Linked DNA regions of Homo sapiens: region 2 is linked to region 1. The links come from fine-mapping of genetic effects on gene expression. A gene starts in region 1. The other region holds a variant in brackets. All regions are shown on one strand. Distances are between the middles of the regions. Region 1 holds the start of DPF3 (double PHD fingers 3). Region 2 overlaps DPF3 (double PHD fingers 3).

The links.
Region 2: its variant is fine-mapped to the expression of DPF3 in aorta (GTEx, PIP 0.96).

Annotation. Positions count from the first base shown.
Region 1 is chr14:72,892,801-72,895,701 of GRCh38, forward strand. It overlaps DPF3 (double PHD fingers 3), which reads right to left and starts at 1,301. Exons shown (of 11, transcript NM_001280542.3): 1 at 1,257-1,301. The coding sequence starts at 1,288. RefSeq lists an enhancer at 1,261-1,555.
Region 2 is chr14:72,807,102-72,810,002 of GRCh38, forward strand. The region is part of intron 1 of DPF3 (double PHD fingers 3); the gene reads right to left. Among named protein-coding and RNA genes, the nearest start is that of DPF3, 86 kb to the right of the region's middle. RefSeq lists an enhancer at 2,713-2,901. The variant C/T (reference allele first, on the strand shown) is at 1,636.

The DNA of each region.
Region 1 (2,901 bases):
CCAGCCCACCTCGGATACGGAGGGAGCCACCCTCTGCCGACATCACCCAATAGCACCCCTTTCAGAGCGACACTAGTTTTCCGAGGCCACCCCTGGCTCCGCGATCGCGAGCGGACTTGGCGGCTTAACAGTTCCACTGACTGGAAGGAAGGAAGGAAGGAAGGAAGGAAGGAAGGAAGGAAGGAAGGAAGGAAGGAAGGAAGGAAGGAAGGAAGGAAGGAAGGATGAAAAGGAGGAGGAAGGCAGGCAGGCAGAAATTGGCTGTTGGACCCGGGGCTGGCCCCCGCGAGTCCTCGCCCGGCCCGCCCCACTCTGTCCAGGATCTGGGCAAGCGCTCAAAGTCTCCCCGAGGCGGCCAGAGGCACCTGCCCCTCGCCCGGCCGGGAGCAGACGCTGCCCCCTCGGGCCAGGAGCCCCAAAACCGCCTCTCCGCCTGCCTCAGCGCCTCACCCAGAGGTGGCGAGAACACCATTCATAAGACCTGCGGCTTCCCTGCCTCCAAATCCACCCCAAGTTAACCCGAGTCGTTAATCCACTAAAGCCAGCTCGCTCGCAAATACACGAGCAGACACACGCTCGATCGCCCGGAGCGCCTCCGAGATCCGGGGGCTGCCGGGGAAAGCCCGGGGCGACCACCTGGGCCCCAGCACGCCCGGGACCCGCTGCTTCCCCCGCGGTGCTCCAACTCCGGAAGGTTTGCACAAACTCCCCGCGAGCGATCGGAAGGCGAAGAGCGCCCTGCAAACTCCGGAGCCTCCGCGGTCCGTCCGCTGGACCCAGCGGACCCAGCGGCGGGGCGGGGGCCGCGGGCTCGGGGGCGCGGGGCTCGGCCAAGTACACCGAGGCGGCCACTGCCCGACGCTCGCCCCCCGCCCAGCAGCCCCCGAAGCCGCGCTCCCTGCCCGCGAGGCGGGGGACTCCGGGGACCGCGCCGTCCCCGAGCTCCCGCGACCCTCCTGCTGTAGAGCGCTCGAGCGCCGGGCTTCTCCGCCTGCAACCCCTATATCTGGCTCTCTCTGCAATTTAGCAGAACACAAATGTAACAATTTTCTTCTTGTTAATTGCATCTCCTGACATTTCTGCGCGTTGGGGGAAAAAAAGAAGATGAAGAAGTAAGAGCTGAAAGAAGAGAGAAGCCCCGCCGCGGCTGGAGGCGCCTGCAAGCGCAATGCTCTGGCAGCGCTCGCCACGCAGAAGGCGCCTTTTTTTTCATATTGAAACCACGCGGAATATGTACATTTTTTAGTCTTACTTACGCTTTCAGGGGGTTGTGAATGACAGTCGCCATTTTGCTACAATGTAACAGAATATTGTCTCAGAGTTCTAAAGGTTCGCTCAGGGGAAGCGACGGGCCAATCACAGCGCGGGATACCGGCCCGCCGGCCAATCGGCGCTGCTGGTAGCTAGGTGGGCGGGGCCTGCGCCGTGGTAGTTATTAGGAGAGCTGTCAAAGCCCAGAGGTCACTCCCTTTTGTAGAGCCCGAGAGCCAGCAGGTCTTAAAGGGGCAGTACAGCGCTGGTAGCTCCTTTTCGGGCTGGGGAAAGTGGAGACGCACGGGAGAGTATTATAGTTTGGTTTAACTCCCTACTTTTCTAAATAACTGCAGAAGAGTTTGCGCTCCCGGACAGAAATATTTAAATATTGCCAGCAAGCCACTGAATCCTATTCATTAGCCTTTGGCTTTGCGTATCAACATTTTTAATCCCCCAAAGGGTAAATCCCCGTGTTTCAGTGCAAAAGTTGGAAGGCTGCCGTTTCGTGTTAACAAATTACTACATGTGCTCTGCCGTTTGCTAATGCTCTGGGTCCTGCCGCTTTTTAATATTCTTATTCCCGAAGTGTTCTCTTTATCTCGGCCACCTTCCTCTCTCGCTTCTTGGAACTGTCGCTGCTGTTCCTGGCGACTCCAGGACAGCAACTCACCCTCCCCCTGGAACGTCTCAATGTCAGGCTCGCTCCCTCCTGCAGCCAGGGCTTTCCTTACGTAGTGCAGGGGGGTTACTCTGCGCGGTTCCCCGCTACCACCCCTTCGGTTCTTCCCTCTACACCAGAAACTTCCAAAATGCTCAGATTCCTGCTAGGTGGTGGGACCTGGAGCTCTGATCTTTAGGCTTAGGGGTAGGGAGGACTTAAGGCAACCTTTGGAAACTTTCTACTGCTAGGAAGCAAGTGACTAGGCAGAAGTTGTAGAGCCTGGACTGGGTGTTATCAGGGTCCCTTTAGAGGAGTGGCACACGCGATTCTGGCGTCACCTTTCACTACTTAGATAGAAGGTGGAAAGAATTTGCTAATGAATAATCCGATGTGACCCGAGGCGTCCAATGAGTCTGTGTCTGCTTCAAGTCAGTGTGAACTCTTCACTGGCGAGCCCCTGACAAAATTGGGAGACTTCTGCGAAGTCAGGCTTCCACTGGGCACCGGGAAGCTCTGGGGGGATGAAATCGCATTAAATCGCGAATAGGGTAGGGGCCTCGTTAGCATACAGAAGTCTGGCTACCATTCCAAAGCTGTTTAATCAGATCAAATAGCTAAGATAGTGGGGGAGGGGTGGCAAGGGGAGAGAAGTTGCCAAATTGCCAGTTCTTCAAAGCTATGCCCTCTCGCTTCCTTTTGCTCCTCTCAAGACAATGAATAAAATAAAATAAACATTCCAGAATTTTAAGAGTTCAACTACATACACTATTAGATTTACAGATAAACAGAACGTGGCTGAATCACTATGTTTTTAAAAGATTTGAAATCTTTAACTCCTCTCTGCGTATTTAAGAAGCAGAATTGAGTTCTATAGATTCCTTTGTAAATCCTTTGCATAGCATCTTGGCAGAGATTACAGTTTGAAAAAGTTATCTCCTTTTCCAAAATTGAAGTTTGAAAAATCCCTTCTTTACTAATTTGACAAG
Region 2 (2,901 bases), 86 kb before region 1:
CCACCCTGAAACCTCAAAGCAGGCCCACAGGGTAGATATCTAGGGACCTTGAAGCAAACATTTCACCTATTCAGGACACAAACTAAATAAGCTTGTGTCGCTTAGTAATTCTGTAATGTCTTACTTATGCCCTTGGGCAAACTCCTTAAAATATTTGTTTCTGTTTTCCCATCAATAAAATGAGAATTGAAGCACCTATTTCTTAGGATTATTGTGAAGATTTGATGAATTAACACTAGGAAATGTGCCTAGCACTGTTTAATATGTGGCAGAGGCTCAATAAATACATTATTATTATTATTACTATTATTGACAGGTTAAAGGCCTGTGATGATACTGACTCCAGCATAACTCTGATACTGCCCCTTTGACTCGGCTAGTTTTGACAGAGGGCCCTTTGACAACACCTAAAAAACAAACCACTAAACTTTCAGTTTTTAAAAAAATACCAGGTAAGCTGGGTACAGTTGGCTCACGCCTGTAATCCCAGAACTTGGGGAGGCCAAGGCTAGAGGATGATAGGAGGATCTCTTGAGGCCAGTTTTTAACAACCAACTCTCCAGTGAACTAATCCATTCCTGCCAGAACAAATCCAGTCTTACAAGAGTATGAATATTAGAGCTACAAGGTACCGCCAAGAGACAGGGTTTTGCTTTGTTGACCAAGACCAGCCTGGTCAACATAGGAAGACCCCATCTCTACAACAAATTTAAAAATTAGCCAGGCTTGGTGGCACATACATAGTCCTAGCTACTCAGGAGGCTGAGGCAGGAAGATCACTTGAGCCCTGGAGTTGGAGGCTGCAGTGAGTTATGATCACGCCACTGCATTCCAGCCTGGGCGACAGAGCAAGAACCTGTCTCTAAAACAACAACAACAACAACAACAAGTAATGTGAGAAACAAATGCCCTCCCTCCCTCCCTGAGGGTCACCCCCAGCCTGACCTGATGGATGGGAAAAGATAAGCTCAGAGATGGGGTAAGGATAAGGTGGGAGTTAGGAATGGGGTAGAGGTCAGGGATGGACTGAGAACTAGGAAAGGGAAGGATCAAAGATGGACTGGAGGTCTGGAAGCAGGAAGAGAGAAATGGAGTAAGGGTCAGGGCTGGAGACCAGCAGAACCGAGGTGAAATGTAGGACCATCTGATGGATGGTCACATTAATAACTTTAATTTTTCACCACCAGCTCCCACTACAGCATCCAAACATCCTGCTCTGAAGGAGTGGGAGCAGGGACAGGGAAGAAGAAGAAACCTTAACTGAGTGAACATTTTAAAACAAGCAGGACATTTCGAACTCAAATAGTAAGAGTCACTTTGCTGTCCAAATCCCACCAGTCCTTGGTGTAATACTACAAGTGGGACTTACAAGCAGGACCCGCAAGAAGGTTCTAGTAACTACCTCAGCTTGCAGGACGTAAAATGCCTGGCGAACTTTGCATTCCAAGGACAGGAGTCTTCCAAATTAAAATTTTAATAGTGTGTGAAAATAGTTCGCCATTTACTCTTAGGATGAGGTAGTGTTTAGAAAGTCAGCCTGGAAATCCAGGCCAACATTTTCAGGGATGCCTCCTATTCTGGGAGGAGAAAAACCAGCTTGTTGCTTCCCTCCAGTAGCACAAAGCAGCAGGGAAC[C/T]GGAAAGAGAGAGGGGTCTGAACAGCTTCTTCTACCAGGAAACCAGCCAAAGGTCTCCGGGCATGTAAGGACATCTGTTTTCAGAAGCTATGGTTTGGATTTTGGCATTCTTAGGAGTCTAGGAGCAATCCTACTAATTTGGGTTCTAGCTCCAACCATACTACCTACCTGCTGTGCGAACCCAGGCAAGTGATTTTACCTCTCTGAGCCTCTGTTTGCTCATCTGGCCCTCTAGACAAGATTAACTTGGCAGTGCCTTGTAGCTCTAATATTCATACTCTCATAAGACTGGATTTGTTCTCACAGGAATGAATTAGTTCCCTGGAGAGTTGGTTGTTAAAACACCAGGGCCCCCTTGGGTTTCCCCATCTTCACACGTGTCTACTTTCCCTTTGACCTTCCCTGCCATGTTGTGATGCAGAAGGAAAGCCCTCGCCAGAGGACAGGGCCATGCCCTTGAACTTCTCAGCCTGCAGAACCATAAGCTAAATAAATCTCTTTTCTTTATAAATGATCCAGTTCCTGGTATTCCATTACAGCAACACAGACAGACACTCCCACATCATCGTCACACAGGGCTTGGGCTGCCTGGCCCTGGCCACTGCCTGCCAACACCAGGCCTGGTCCCTCCATCATCTAGGACCTTGGGGAACATGGCACCGGTGAAGGGCATGGGGGTTACCAGAAAGAGTGAGAAGTCGGCAGGTCAGCACGGCCACACAAGCCACCCTCTCCCAACTTATGTGCAGGCATGATGGCTCCCCATCCACCAGCACTCCTGAGGCCACTACACCAGGGAGGAAAGAAGTGCATGGGGAGGCCTGGTCACACCTGCCCTTCCTTTCAGAACCCTGCATGTGGCTGATGGCAGGTCCTCGGCGCCTGGTGGAAGAGAAAGGGAAGGTGGCACTGGGCTCCACAGGCAGTGATTCTCAGCCCTGCTTGTCACTGGGAGCTGGTTCCTGGGTCCCACCCCAATCTCTTATGATTCCATAGATCAGGAGGAGACCCAAGAACCCAACTTTTCACTTAGCTCTCCAGGGAATACCAATGCAAACGGCCACTGACCACCCCTTGAGCGCCCTGTGGATGAGAGGGTGGAACTAGAGGTTCTAGAAGCAAGTGCTTGAGTCCCCTCACTAGCTGAATGACTCTGGGCAGTTTACATCTCCTTTCAAACCCTCAACTGCCCATCTGAGAAATGGGGATATAAAAGCGTCTGCTTCTTGGGGTTATTTAGAGAAATACATGAGAAAAAGGATGGAA